2 separate regions of the Homo sapiens genome follow, and region 2 is linked to region 1. Evidence: fine-mapped expression QTL. Tissue or cell type: whole blood. Region 1 holds a variant in brackets; the other region holds the start of a gene. All regions are shown on one strand. Distances are between the middles of the regions.

What was found. PIP is the estimated chance that this variant, and not a neighbour inherited with it, causes the effect.
Region 2: it holds the start of LY9, and the variant in region 1 is fine-mapped to the expression of LY9 in whole blood (TOPMed, PIP above 0.99).

What each region holds. Positions count from the first base shown.
Region 1 is chr1:160,849,883-160,857,990 of GRCh38, reverse strand. All of the region lies in intron 1 of CD244 (CD244 molecule), which reads left to right. Among named protein-coding and RNA genes, the nearest start is that of CD244, 9.0 kb to the left of the region's middle. RefSeq lists an enhancer at 2,554-2,603. The variant G/C (reference allele first, on the strand shown) is at 3,516.
Region 2 is chr1:160,792,476-160,800,583 of GRCh38, reverse strand. It overlaps LY9 (lymphocyte antigen 9), which reads right to left and starts at 4,410. Exons shown (of 10, transcript NM_002348.4): 1 at 4,273-4,410; 2 at 502-831. The coding sequence starts at 4,396.

The DNA.
Region 1 (8,108 bases):
ACTGTAGCCTTGACCTCCTGGGCTCAAGCAATCCTTCTGCCTCAGCCTCCTTAGTAGCTGGGACTACAGGCATGTATCACCACACTTGGCTTATTTTTAATTTTTGTGTAGAGATGGGGTTTTGCTATGCTGCCTGGGCTGGTCTTGACCTCCTGGGCTCAAGCAATCCTCTTGCCTTGGCCTCCCAAATTACTGGGATTACAGATGTGGGCCACTGTGCCCAGCCAGGCCATTGTCTTCACAGACAAACCTCTCTTATTGAAGTGCAACATACAGAAAAGTACACAAAATTACAAATGTACATCTCAATGAGCTATTGTTAAATGAACACACTCTTGTGTCTACCACATGTTCTCTCCCATTCATTACTTCCTCTGTCTTCCATAAATATAGCCACAATTCTGACTTCTAACATCACAGATTTGTTTTGTCCGTATATATGGAATCAAACGGTATGCACTCTTGTGTCTGACTACTTTTGCTCAACATCTTATGAGATTTATGTATGTTATTATTTGTAGCAGATCATTTTCATGGCTGTATAGTATTTTATCGCATGACTATATCATAGTTTATTCACCTTTTCTATTATTGATGAACCTTTGGGTTGCTTTCAATTTTGTTTTTGCTATTATAATAATGCTGTGATGAGCCTTTTGTGCATGCATGTCTGTTGGGTATATCTCTAGGGGCAGAACCATGGAGTATGTGTACGTAACTCTAGCAGATGCTGTCAAACTGTTTTCCAAAGTGGTTGAACCAAATAGTGCATGAGAGTTCCATGCTGCTTTGGGGCCACTGGCTTTTGGTTCTGAAGGTCTGCAGATGGAAAATTAAATTGTGGAAATGTGGAGCTTGGCAAGAGGCCAAAGGCAAGGGAATTACAGCTCTGTGATTTCTCTGGTATCCTGCATGAAATTCTGACAATAGAGTCATTTTTAGGAGTTATGTGAGATGCATTGTTGAATTAATTAATTTAAACGGATTCATGAAGCCCTTGCTTGGGTTGTTCATTTTGCTGTTGTGACGTTTGAATTTCTTGTCTATTCTGCATATTAGTTGCCTGTAGGATTCATAGTTTGCAATTTTTTTTCCTATTCTATTGGTTGCCTTTTCACTCTGTGAATTGTTTCCTTTACTGTACATGATTTTTTTTTAGTTTGCTGTAATACCATTTGTTTATTTTGCTTCTGTTGCCTGTGCTTTTGAGGTCTTATTCATAAACTCTTTCCCCAGCCCTTATTATGCTCCAAGAACTATGCAAGGTTTTGTGGGGGAAACAAAGATGAAACAGATGTCTATTCTACCCTTAAGAATCTTTCAGACAGAGGAAAATGGGTATGTATAATTACAACTATAAGGGAAGATGGAAATGCTATGTGTCATTAACAGGCAAGATACATTTAGAATAAAAAAGGAGCTAAGAAGATGAAGATTCCTTCTAGGTAGGAACACTGGGGAACTGGCCTTGAAGAATAAATAAGAGTTTAGGAGGTAGGTACAAAGTAGAAGGACAATTGAAGCAGAGGAAACAGCTCAGAAAAGCCAGGGTTGCATGGGGTTTGGATGGGAAACAGGAAAGGGAGATGCACTTGTTATCATGGAGAAACAATATCACATATGAGATGATTTGGTTAACTGATGCAAAGAGTGGGACTTGGGCTAGGTGAGTTTTGACAGAGGTAAGGGAGTTGCATTGCCTGAGGAAGAGAGTTAATATGGTCAGTATGAAGCTAAATAGAGAGGAAGAAAGAAATGGGATGTGGGCCCTATAGGATACTTTATCTATCTTATGATTTTGCCCTGACTAGAGCTGGATTGCCCCAGTACTTTTGGAATCTCACTGGACTCTGTTCACTTAGTCCCCAGCAGGTACATCTTTTGATGCCTTCACCCCAAGCCTGGTAGCACAAGCCCTAGCTGAGAAAACCTTAACATCTATTTGTTGGCTGGTGGAAATTCCACTTGCTCTGAGACCCTCCCGTGCTCCTTCTCCCAGGTGCTCAGGCCCCACACCTTCCTCCGACTGGCAGGTCCAGGTTGGAGGAAGCTGAGCTGACTCAGAGCTCTGCACATGGGCTCAGGGCTGAGCGGGACTCACTGCTGGATCAGATTGTCTCCTTCACCATCCTCTGTACTTGTCTCCTTGACCATCCTCTGTTCTTCCTGAGGCTGCAGTGGAGTTAATCATCTGCCCTCTGCCCTCCCTTTCAGAGTTACTAGTTCACCTCATCCGTTCTTAACCACAGGAAGGTGGCCCCCAAAGCTGCTGAGCAGTAGCAACAGCAGTGGCAGGGGCCCGGGGGCCTTCCTGGACTGTGGCCTCTTTCCTCTAAACAATTTTCACTTGTTGGGTCCTCCTCTATGCCTCACTAAATGTGTGAGAACTTGTGTTGAAGTTATGTTTTCGTAGTAGCATTTCATCTCCCCTATCTGGTGTGTGTACCCCTCTGGGACAGAAACTGAGGTCTTTCTGTATCAGTCACAATACCCTGGACATAGTGACTTGTCTACTTGCCTTTTCACCGTATCTGCTTTGCACCCCTGCCCTGGCACCCACCCCTTCCAGGCCGTCCATGGAAACTCATTCCAACCATCTTCCTCCTTCCCACACTGGACTGTTGGGGGCTGCAGGAGAAAATTCAGCAACAAAGAGCAGCTACAGATTCGTAATCTCCAACCCCAGCTGGACTCTCAGTGTCCTGGGAATCCTCATTTCTGGCCCACAGCTTCTCCTGTTCCCCAAAAGGTGGGAGAATTCCACACCTTCGTCATCTCTTTCAAGGCCCTGTTCCACTATCTCAGCCTCCACAAACCAACAACCTCCTTCTTTAAGAAAACAGAAGCACAAGTTAGGGATTCCACCAACCTTGCCAACAAGTCTCCAGTGTCAATGTACTTCATCTACTCCTGTAAATGGCCACATTTGCCTCTGCTGAGGGCAAGAGTGTTCTTGCCCTGTCCTTGACCAATACTCCCCTGTGTGCTCAGGGCACCAGAGCTTCTTTCAGAAGTCACCTGGGACCTGCTGTCTGTGAAGACATCCCTCATCTTTCTTCAGCTGCTCCTTTTCTGTGGGCTTCCTACCTTTAGTACAGTTTCCTTCCAGTTGAAAAATCAAAACAACACCTGGTGTTCTCTCTAGCTCCTTTTTATTTGCAGACAAACCAGTCTTAAATGTATAAACTAATATAATATTACATAAAAATAAAATATAACGGCCTAATTTTTAAAAAGACCCCAAAGGCAGTATAGCATGAGGACTGTAGATCACACATTTCATTCTTTAAGTATTTAGAAGTCTATGGCTGGGAGTGGTGGCTCACGCCAGAACTTTGGGAGGCTGAGACGGGTGGATTACTTGAGGTCAGGAGTTCAAGACCAGCCTGGCCAATATGGCGAAACCCTGTCTCTACTAAAAATACAAAAAAAAAAAAAAGAATAGCTGGGGGTGGTGGCAGGCACCTGTAGTCCCAGTTACTCATGAGGCTGAGACAGGAGAATCACTTGAACCT[G/C]GGAGGCAGAGATTGCAGTGAGCCGAGATCATGCCACTGCACACCAGTCTGGGTGACAGAGCGAGACTCTGTCTTAAAACAAACAAACAAACAAAGAAGTCTAGACAATAACTTAACCATTTTCCTGTGTGATTCCTATTCAGTTTTATAATAGCAGAGAACAACCTTCTTCTACATAGCGCTCTACATTCTGATCTACTGGTGGATTATATGGGAGTTTACGTTATTTTTCATTACACCGTATATTTATATTTAAGTACCTTTTAATACTTGTGCTACCTCTCACAATTTTATAAAAGATAAAAATAAAGTGAAACCACCACTAAACACCTGAAAATTAAACTCATGTTCCATCACCCCATTCTCCAAACCTGCTCCATCTTTACCAGACCCATAAGCCACACGTGTGTTTTGTGTTCCCTTAACCATGCTACTGCTGGGTCCATAATACCCACCTTCCCTGTTCCTTTCTGCATACACCAGGCAGGCCTTGGCTTTTTCTTTCAATGGCAGCTCCCACCCACCGCCTCTGGGCAGCCACTCCTAACTCTGCAGGGCAGAGGAAAACATGCTTTCCTTATGCTTGCCTCACACCCTGGGCACACCTCCATAGCACATTCCATATTGCATTTCAGTTGGCTGTTTTAGGTCTATCTTCCTTTTTCACTTTTTTTTTTTTTTTTTTTTTTTTTTAGGCAGGGTCTTGCTCTGTCACCCAGGCTGGGGTGCAGTGGTGCAGTCATGGCTCACTGCAACCCCTGCCTCCCAGGCTTTTCTGATATTTAGCTAAGAGTTGGGTTTAGCTGAGATGAGTGAGGAAATCTACAAATTCACTTGCTATGGTAATGTTTCCACAATGGGCAAGTCATATTTTGCTTTTATCAAAGTACATCTTAGTTAATAGTCAGAACAGTTGAGTGAGAGGTAGTCATTACTCTTTTTCTGCTTTTTTACCAAGATACAACTCACAGCTGTGTGCACAAAATTTAAATCAACAGCTTGATGAACTTTTATATGTGTAAGTACATATCAAAACTACCCACATCAAGATGTAACACATTTCTAGCACCCAGTCATTCCTTTTTGGCCCTTCAAGTTGATAACCCCCCTCCTGCAAGGGTAATCACATTCTAACCTCTCTCACCATATATTAGTTTTTCCAGATTTTAAACTTTATATCAGTGAAATAATTCACTATGTACTTTTTGGAGTCTAGCTTCATTAATACTCATCATTGTGGTGAGATCCATCCACATTATTGCCAGGAAAAGTAGCTTTTCTTTTTCATTGCTGTGTAATATTCCTTATAAGACTATAACACGATTTATTTGCTCATCTAATCGTGATAGACATTTGGGTTTTTTCTCATTTTGAGTTATTATGACTAAAGCCATTATTAACACTCTTGTACATATTTTTAGTGGATATAAACACCAGATTTTCTTTTTTTTTGAGACGGAGTTTCACTCTTGTTGCCCAGGCTGGAGTGCAATGGCATGATCTTGGCTCACTGCAACCTCCGCCTCTCAGATTTAAGTGATTCTCCTGCTTCAGTCTTCCAAGTAGCTGGGATTACAGGTGTGCACTGCCACGCCCAGCTAATTTTTTTTCTTTTTTTTGAGATGGGGTTTCACCATGTTGGCCAGGCTGGTCTCAAACTCCTGACCTCAGGTGATCCGCCTGCCTCGACCTCCCAAAGTGCTGGGATTACAGGCATGAGCCACCATGCCTGGCCCAGATTTTCTTGTGTACAAATTCTTCTGGATCAAAGGGTATATGTAAGTTTAGTTTTAGAAGATACCGTAAAATAGTTTTCCAAAGTGCTGGTACCAATTTACACTCTCACTAGCAATAAATGAGAATCTCAGTTGCTCCCATCTCTGTCAACCCTTGGAATTTTCACATTTATTTATTTACATTTATTTTCGAGACCAAGTCTCAGTCTGTCACCCAGGCTGGAGTACAGTGGCGTGATCTTGGCTCACTGCAACCTCTGCCTCCTGGGTTCAAGCAATTCTCCTGCCTCAGACTCCCAAGAAGCTGGTATTACAGGCGCCACCACCGTGCTCTGCTAATTTTTGCATTTTTAGTAGAGATGGGGTTTCACCATGTTGGCCAGGCTGGCCTCGAACTCCTGGCCTCAAGCGATCCACCCGCCTCGGCCTCCCAAAGTGCTGGGATTACAGGCTTGAGCCGCTTCGCCCAGCCTTCAGACCTTTAAATGTTAGCTATTTTGGTGGGAATGTGAAATCTCATTATTCTCTGATAACTAATGTTGTTGGGCACCCTTATGCATGCCTATTGGCTATTGGATATTCTCTTTCCTAAAGTGCCTGCCCAAGTCTGTTGCTTTTTTTGTCATTATTGTCATCAGTGTATTATTGATTTCCAGTCTATTATTGTCATCAGTCTATTATTGATGGAATTCTTTATATACTCTGGATATGAGCCCTTTTTCAAATGTATGTATTGCAAACATTTTCTCCCAGTCTTTGGCTTGCTTTTTCACTCTCTCAATGTTGTCTTTCACCAAACAGAAGTTCTAAGTTTTAGTGAAGTCCAATTTATCAATATTCTTTTATGGTTAGTGATTTATTTTTGTGTGTGTGTGTCCTGTTAAAGAAACATTTGTTGTCTGGGTGCAGTGGCTCATGCCTGTAATCTCAGCGCTTTGGGAGGCCAAGGCGGGTGGATCACTTGAGCCCAGGAGTTCAAGACAAGCCTTGGCAACATGGTGAAACTCTATCTCTACCAAAAATGCAAAAATTAGCCAGTCTCATAATCTGGTCTCAAAATAAACATAAAAATAGATTAAAATGTAAAAATAAAAAAGGAAACATTTGTCTATCTCAAGATGTAGAAGATATTCTCTTGTGCTTTTTCCTGGAAGCTTTATAGGTTTAGCTTTCATATTTAAATTTATGATTTGTTTTAAATTAATTTTTGTATATGATATGAGGGAGATATCAAGGTTTTTTTTCCTTATAGATATCAATTTGACCAAGCACCATTTATTGAAAAGATCAAGTATGTGTTGGTTTGTGTGATATTGTGAAATATATATTTGGTTTTCAACCTCCTTTCCTGGCATACAATTCCTAAAATTTTTAGAAATTCCGAAGTGATGTCTTTTTGTAGGCTAATGAGGTGACCGATGGCTGGCAGCCTGTAGGCAGCTTCGGGATAGGGGCCGGTCACCAGAAAGACCAAGGCAGGGTTGGAATATTGGACTCTGAGCCCGTCCCCAACCTTCAGGAAAAGGAGAGGGATTGAAGGTTAAGTTGATCACCGATGGCCAGTGGTCAATCATTCCCATTTATTGAGGCCTCCATAAAAACCCAAAGAACAAGGTTCAGAGAGCTAAACATGCGGAGGTTCCTGGAGGGTGGCACGCCCTGGGAAGGCATGGAAACTCTGTATCCCTTCCCCTACACCTTGTCCTATGCATCTCTTCATAGGTACCCTTTGTAATAACCTTTATAATAATCCAGTGAATGTGTTTCCCTGAGTTCTGTGAGCCATCTAGCAAATTAATTGAACCCAAGGAGGGAATAACGGGAAACCCAGTTTATAGCTAGTTGGTCAGAAGCGCAGGTAAAACAATCTGGAGCTTGCAGTTGGCATCTGGTGGATATCTACAGGTAGATAGTGTCAGAATTGAACTGAATTAGAGGACATCCAGTTGGTGTCCACTGAAGAGCTGATTGCTTGCTTGGCACGTGGGAAACTCCCCACACGTTGGTCACAGAAGTCTTCTGTGTTGATTGTTGTGGTGTGAAACCAGAGGAAAAACAGTTAGTGTTTTTCCCACACACAGGGTCTATTTCTAGACTATTATATTCCATCGACTACTTTTCAATCCTTGCAATACTGGAATGCTATCTTAATTTCTGAAGTTTTACAATATATCTTGATATTAGGTAGTGAAAACCTTCTAGCTTTGTTCTTCATCAAGATTGCCTTGGCTATTCTATGTCTTTTACATTTTCATATAAGTTTTAGAATCAACTTGTTAATTTCTATAAAAATAACCTGCAATAATTTTTATTGGAATTCTATTGAATCTATAAATTAATTTAGGAAGAATTGACATCTTAGCAATATTAAGTCTTCCAATAAAAACCATGGTATAGTCTCCTGTTTATTTAGCTCTTTAATTTTTTCTCAGCAATCTTTTGTTGCAATAGGTGTATAGGTCTTAAATATTTCTTCTTGAAATTATTTCTATATATTTTATCTTTTTTGTGCTGCTGTAAATAGTATTGTTTTCAAAATTTCATTTTTATCTGTTTGTACTAATATATAGAAATAAAAATGATTTTTGTATATTGACCTTATATCTAGCAATTTTGCAAAACTGACTTCTACACTCAAATAATTTTTCATATAGTCCTCTTGGTTTCCTATATACACAGGTATATAGTTTGTGAATAATGACAGTTTCACATATTCATTTTTTTTTTGAGATGGAGTTTTGCTCTTGTTGCCCAGGCTGGAGTGCAATGGTGCCATCTTGGCTCACTGCAGCCTCCGCTTCCCGGGTTCAAGTGATTCTCCTGCCTCAGCCTCCCGAGTAGCTGGGATTTCAGGTGA
Region 2 (8,108 bases), 57 kb after region 1:
CACTTGTACCCCCTAAATATATTTAAACAATTTAAAAATCCATAAAAAAGAATGAAATCATGTCTTTTGCAGCAATGTGGCTGAAACTGGAGGTCATTATCTTAAGTTAAATAAGCTAGGCACAAAAAGACACATATCGCATGTTCTCACTTATATGTTGGTACTAAAAATTTTGATCATGTGGAAGTGGATGGTGGAAAGATAGATAGCAGAGACTGAGAAGGGTGAGTGTGGGGAGTGGGTGGTGGGGGGATGATGAAGAGAAGTGGGTTAAAGGGTACAAACATACAGTAAGATAGAGAAAATCAATTCAATTTTTGATAGCAGAGTAGGGTGACTATACTTAACAGGAATATATTGTACTCAGGCAGCAGACACACTGAAAACTCTGACTTGATCAGTATGCACTATATACATATAACAAAATTTCACACATACCCCATAAATTTGCACAAATAAAAAAAAGAAAAGATCAAAACACAGAAGCTCTCTGGAACTCACCATAGACGAACAGGGTGAATTCCTCCTCAGTGGTGACTTCAAAATTCCTTTGGTTTATCTGGGCTTTGTAGGATCCTGCATCATTCAGAGTCAGATTGCTGATGCACAGGGAGTAACTCCACTTGGTGATGTCTAGTCGGCCCAGGTAGCTTTTGACCATAATGGTTACATTTTCTTTGGGACGTGCGAAAGCAAGAGCATTTTTGGGACCAATCCAGATGACGTTCTCAATCTCTGTGTCTACTGAGATGTTTAGGGGGAGAGTCACGGAACCCCCTAGGATCCCTGACACCACTGTTGGGGCTGAGTCCTTTCCAGAGGCTCTTAGTCCTGCAGAGATAGAAGAGGGACTTGGAGGAGCAGCTAGACTCCTTGAGCTAGCCTTCTTTCTTTCACTCTGTGAATATACATTGGGCATAAATGTCAGATGCTGAGAAATGAAATGAGATTCTTGTCCTCCTTCTTCTAGGTCAATTGCCTAGCACAGTCATTAATTCCTCCATTCCCCAAACACTGTCTCCCTTAAAAGCAGCCACAACAATCTGTGAAACAGATCTTCTGGGTTTCTGTTCCAGTAGAGGAATTAGCCTTGTGACTTTGGGTACATTTCTGAATTTTTCAGTGAATCTTATCTAAAAGATTGAAATGCTCATACCTGCACCATTTTCTTCAAGGGATATGGTAAAAATGAAATGAAAGCAGGTTGCTGCAAATTGTGAAGAGCCAATGAAGTAAAAAGGAGCATATTTTTAAAAATATGGGTGGGTAGAGGGATGGTTAGATGGGCAGGCGAGTGATAAAGCAAGCAAAGTAAAACGTTTGTGTTAGAATCTAGGTAGTAGGCCTATGAATGTTCAGGGTAAATGCTCCAACTTTTCTGAATGTTTGAGAACTCTCATAGCAGTGTCGGGAACTAAAGGAGCTTCTCCTACCTCTACCTCACCCTTATTGTCCATGGCATCTCAGATTGACTTTGGTTTGGCCAGGTTTGGGGGTGGGAATAGCTGGTGGTACTAATACAGTTCCTGATTTCCTCATCTTAGGCAAGATCATATTCCTGATAAACATTGTTACCAAGGCATCTAGGAAGCTGGTATTTGGCCAAGGCAGTTAATTTTCTTGTAGGGACCCTGTGGGTGTCTTCTGGGTGACCCTAGCTTGGATTCCCAGATTCCAGGGCTTCCGAGGCTCTGGAGAGCACTTTTGAAATTCTAGACCAAAACAGATGGGTTTGGGACCCAGACTCCACCAGGAATTCTGGGTGGGAAAATAAGTAGAAAATGTTAGAGACAAAAAAGGAGCATAAGCATAGCCTGGAGGGGCGGAAGAAAGCTGAAGCAAGCTCTGAAAACCCAGAGGATACAGAATATGCAGACACTGGAAGGAGAGAGGCTGCTTGGTGCAGGTCATGGGGGTTCTCTGCTTAGACCTCCATCAGCCAAGCACTTGCACCTTGTGGAGAGGCAGCTATGGAGCATGCAGGGCTAGGGATCCTGGACATGAGAAGGTTGGGTCAGGTGGATTCTTTAGGCAGATTCAGGCTGAGTTGATGTGAGGTTGGTTTGAGGTTTTCTAAAAGAGAGCTCTTCCCATCTGGAAGAGACTGCTTACGATTGCTATGTGTGCATTAGGTACTTTATGTAAATTATCTCATTTAATTCTCATAACTATACTATAATTAGCCCCTTTTTACAGATGAGGAGCTGAAATTTAGAGAATTTAATCCACTTCCCTGAGATTACAGGGTTGATCAGTCACAGAGTCCAGATCCTATGTCCATGATGCCCCTGGAGTAGGGAGGCCAGGAGTACTGCCCATCTGTATCCTGGAAGCCCAGGAGCTGCTGGGTCTTGACTGGGTGCATATGACTCGTTTTGACTTCAAATTTTCTTACATCAGACAAAAACCATAAACAAAAGCCTCACAGACTCTCAGTGGAGGGGGCAGGATGTGGGCCTCACAGGGCAAATCTTGTTGCAGAAGACAGTGCAATGCAGCTCCCAGTACAATGACAGGTCCCCAGTACCAGTCATTTTATTTTGAATTGCACCGTAGGACAAATAATAAAAGAGCATTCAAAGATTGCAAAACTGAATTTGACTCACCTGTCTCTTAATAGTTTCCAAAGAATGCACGTAACAGTAATTATAATAATAACAATCATAGCTTCTGCCAACTATGTGCCACTATACGTGTGTGTGTGTGTGTGTGTGTGTGTGTATAGATCATCTACAATCTGTAAGAGTGTTGCATGATGCATCCTACTAACTATATTTTACACTTAAGAAATAGAGGCCCTCATCACTAATAAATGATGGAGCAATGATTTAATTTCAGATGTTCCTGATACTAAAGTGAGAGGGGTCTTTTCACTCGACTGCCTTTTAAGTTCCTGAAATGACTCTTTGGAGATACAAAAGCATCATCCTTTCAGACCAAAAGAGTGAGATTTGAGGTCATCCTAATCAGTGGAGCCAGACCAATGGAGATGCCTCTTTGCTCTGAACTGTTTGAAATTCACTGCATTGATCATTTGCGGCTTGGATGACCTTGAATGTAGCTTATTTCAGGTTTGCTCAACACAATCAAGGAACACCCCAAAGGTTGGAGGTAAACATAAACAGCCTTGCTGCTTTCTGTGTGTTTTGATGAGCCAAGATAAAATTGAAAGTGAAAAGAGGTCAGACTGGACCTCAGCTCTGAGGTCTAGGCTCCTCGTTCACCCATATCTGCATCTAGGAGTGTTTCTAAAGCTCCCTTCAGGCACCAACTGCCAACCCCCACTGCTCTCAGATCTCTAGTGCTACCTGCACCATCATCCCTGAAGCCCTGGAGAAAGCGGGAGCACAGAAGGACAGTAGCTGCCACAGTCCCAGGTGGCTGAGATCCTCTCTGGGGTACTGGATTGGCTCTATCTGCTGGACAGTGGGGTTCCGGGCCATGCAGCGGAGAGATGTTTCCCAGGAGTTGGGCCTTGATAGGGAGGAATAAGGTTGAGGAGAAAAGGATATCCAGATAAACGCCACCTTGCCCATGGTCACCTAACCGCGTCCAGGTCCCCAGTGAAACCTCAGTAATAAAGCCAGCATATATGATAACCAAGGCAGGATACATAGAAAGAAGCTCCAGAAGTTCTCTCCATCCCTAGGAAATTGCTAGGTGGCTTCTCATCAGGGGATTTTCCTGGATCCCTCTGTGGGTTTTATCCACACCATACAGGGAACAAACTCATTATATACTTGGCATTTCTTAGGAAAATGTGAGGGCAAGAGAAATGTAGTTTGAGCCCAGAGCTATTTGAGACCGGGGCTAGAATGTTACCCCCTTCATAGTGCACGAATATGCACACATGCAAAGTAATTTCTGGCAAGGAGATGAGTTTCCCGATTTTACCAACAAGAACTGGGCTCACGCCTGTAATCCCAGCACTTCAGGTGGCTGAGCTGGGCAGATCACGAGGTCAAGAGATCGAGACCACCGTGGCCAACATAGTGAAACCCTGCCCCTACTAAAAATACAAAGATTAGCTGGGTGTGTTGGCATGCACCTGTAATCCCAGCTACTCAAGAGGCTGAGGTAGGAGAATCGCTTGAACCCAGGAGGTGGAGGTTGCAGTGAGCCGAGATTGCGCCACTTCACTCCAGCCTGGCAACAGAGTGAGACTCCGTTAAAAAAAACAAAAAACAAAAAAAAGAATCTCCCAGGCAGGGAATGCAACTGGCCTCAGAAGAACCGCAGTAGCAAGAAGTGGTGGCCATAAAGTGGACTTACCCATGAGCAGGAAGAGGAGAGAGGTCTGTAGAACAGAAGAGAATATTTGCAGCTGACTCCTCTGTGGCTTACTGGAGAAAGGCCCAGGAGCCCAGTCATCTGTGTGACTCTTTGGTGCCACCATGATGATCTATTTTCAGAACTGAGACTGAAGGAGGATGCACTTACCACAGCTTCCGCACGTGTCACAGCTTCTGCATGTGTATATGAGTGTGTGTGTGCATGTGTATGTGTATGTGTGTGTGTCTCAGAGGGAGGGTTGTTTATACAAAACACCACAGACTCCTCCCATCTGCGCAGGCAGGTAGAGGTCCCAAGTCTATTCAGGGCCTCATTTGTGACTGATGTGGAGCATCACTTGCTTTGACATCAAGGGACTTGGGTTCTAAATTTGGCTCCTAAAGGTGACTGCTAAAGATCTGTACCTCCTGGCATTCATGCCTCTGTGTAATCACCTCTTCTTTAGTGTGGCCTGGATTTAGTGACTTGCTTCAAGTGAATAGAATGTGGCAGAGATGTGGGATGGGTCACTTCTGAGATTAGGTTACAAAAAAGCTGTGACTTCCATCTTGGGTTAGCATGTGTGTGCATATGCGCTCTCTCTTTCTCTTGCCCTCTCTCCCTCTCTGTCTTTCCCACTATCTCTGTCTCCCTACCTTACACTGAGGGGAGCCAGGTATTGTTTTGTGAGATACTTTAGGGAGAGGGTTCCAAAACAAAGAACAGAGGGAGGCCCCCAGCCAACAATCGGCGAGGAGCTGATTCCTCTGGCCAACTGTCCATGAGGACTGAGGCTAGCCAAGAATCACATGAGTGAGACTGGAAGTGGATCCTCCCCAGGAGGTCCTTGAAATGACTGCAGCCCTGGCTGACACCGTGATGTTAGTTGTGTGAGTACCTTAAGCCAGAGGCACCCAGCTAAGCCATGCCCAGATTCCTTATCAAGAGAAACTGTGAGATAATAAATGTTTGGTTTTTAAATTTTTTTTCAATTTTTTATTTTTCATCAAAAATGCTTATTGTTTTTAGCTGTGAAGTTTGGGGCAATTTGTTACACAGCAACAGATAACTAATACAGTGACCCAATACATTTTCTATTTTGCTCAAGGCAGTTTGTGCTAGCTTTCTGTCACATGCAATGAAGGACTTTTAATATGGACAAAGGCATCAGGGAGACTGCAATGGGGGTGGACATCGTATGTGACAGCGTAGAGGTGACTGAGTTGAAAAGGTAGGCTGGAGAATGGCATGATTCCCTATATCCTGACTTGGGAAACTGTCTTTTTCTCCTCCTTCTTCTTGTCAGTAGCGTAATAGCTGGCCATGCTATGGTTTGTGTTTCGGGCTTCAGGTCATTTGTTTACTTAGGCTGTAACATTAAGGGGACTTGGCAGGAAAACTTGAGGCTGGCAGAATGTGTAGTTTTAGCTAATATTCGATGAAAGCTTACAGAGTGCTAGTCCATCTTCTGACACTTTAACATATTCACTCATTTGATCTTACAATAGTTTTATGAGATATCTTTTATCATCCCCATTCTATAAATGAGAAAACTGAGGTGGAGAGGGGTTAAATAGCTTACTATAAGTTTTATAGTTAGTAAGGACTTGAACCCAGGAAGTCTGGGTTCAAAGGAAGAAGGGAGAGAGAGAGAGAAACCATTAAGATAACAGGCTTATGTCCATGGAAAGCATCTTTAGAGGCTGGTCATGATCTGATGTTGCACAATATTGAAAGTGACAGAATCTCGAAAATCTTTAAATTTTGTGCACTAGGAGCGTGTCTTGTTTCACTCTAGCCTTGGTCCTGTGACTAGAACATGGGCTGTCTAGAGGGGATTGCAGGACATACGGTCAGGAGAGGTTACCAGAGCCCAGATAAAGCATCCTGTTACCAAGCTAAAGGCAACAAGAATCCAGTAGGAGTAGGAAGCTTCCTGGAGCTGCAGAGTGGAGGGAGAATGGGTGGAAGGGATGAGCCTGGGGATGAGAAGACAGGTGCGGAAGCTATTGAAGGAGTCTGGGTACAGAACATGAGAGCAGGAACAGTCTGCATGGGAGGCGAGGGCAAAGGCAGAAGGGAATTCAGAGAGATTGGTAATAATAAAAATCATTACTAACATTTATTGGGTAATTACTATGAGTGAGCCTCTGTGTTTAGAACTTTACATATGTTTTCTCCTTTAATCCTAAGATAGACCCTATTTGGATGATACTCCAATTATCCCCATTTTAGAGATGAGAAAACTGAGATTTAGGAAAGTAACATCACTGAAATGACCTCCTTTGAAGTTGTGACCATAGGAGGACACAGCCTTATAATACACAAAATCCAATTTAAGTATTATCATTTAAGTATAGTAAAACCTAAATTAATATAAATTTTGGTATGATGCATTTGTTAAGTGTGCCCTGTCCTCACATGGGGAGGGCTAATATTCTCATCAGGACAGGGAGGCAAAGGCACTAGCATTGGGAATCAGGGAGCAACATCCAGTGATGCTGGCCCCGGCGTCTCCAGTGTTGTCCTTCTCAGTATACTTCAACCACCCCAGCAAGTGGGTGTGACTGACTGGAAAATTTTTGAAATCCCTGCTACTGTCCTTGGAGTCCCGCCAGCTACAGGCCCAGAATCACCCCTGTCAACTGGGCATTGCCTCCAGGTAGCATCAGACTCCAGCCTGGGTTGAGATTTGGGTCTGGCAGCCACAACCACATACTCAGCTGTGTTGCTTCACCACCAGCCCCCAACCAACACTTCATTCACTGTGCAATTAAGACGACCCTGCATTTTACACAATTGCATTTTTTGGACTTTATTTCTAATGTTGTCTTGACTTGCAGTATATATATGCTACTACAGATTGGAAGAATATGAAAGACTGTAGAATTTTGACAAGCTCAAAGCTTTTTACACTTAGATGGAAAGACAAATATATGTTAGGAGCTAAAGAAATTCAACATCAAATCAACTGCTGCAGCCACAGTAGAGGGAAGAATTAGGGAATGTCACAGTGTTCAAGTGGAATCTAGGGATATAGGCTATGAGACCAGCCTTTTAGAGGGTAGCAACAAAACAAGCAAAAAGTGGTGCTGCCAGCTGGGCACATTGGCTCACGCCTGTAATCTCAGCACTTTGGGAGGCCGAGGTGGGCAGATCACGTGAGGTCAGGAGCTCAGGACCAGCCTGACCAATATGGAGAAACCCTGTCTCTATTAAAAATACAAAATTATTGGGAGGCGGAGGCGGGCGGATCACGATGTCAGGAGATCGAGACCATCCTGGCTAACATGGTGAAACCCCGTCTCTACTAAAAAAAAAAAACAAAAAACAAAAAAACAAAATTAGCCGGGTGTGGTGGCACGCGCCTGTAATCCCAGCTACTGGGGAGGCTGAGGAAGGAGAATCGCTTGAACCTGGGAGGCGGAGGTTGCGGTGAGCCGAGATTGTGCCATTGCACTGCAGCCTGGGCAACAAGAGCGAAACTCCACCTCAAAAAAAAAGGGGTGCTGGTAATACCATTAGTTAACATGTCAGTGATATTTCTGGTCATTAAGCAACTTTAGCTAATTGAGAAGGTACCCCAGGAAATGGCTGTAAATGGGATGACATAATTGTTTCTTTTGTGGTTATGAATCTTTCAATCCTGGGAAAATAAGGAATACAAAATAGACATGTTCAAGGTAATCAGTTAGTATTTTTTAAGTATATGTATTGTTTGAGGAAATTTAGTTCATTAAAATTGTAGTAAACTTTGTTGCCACGGTTTGAATGTATTTGTCCCTCCAAAATTCATATGTTGGAAACTTTTTTTTTTTTAATGAGATGGAGTCTCA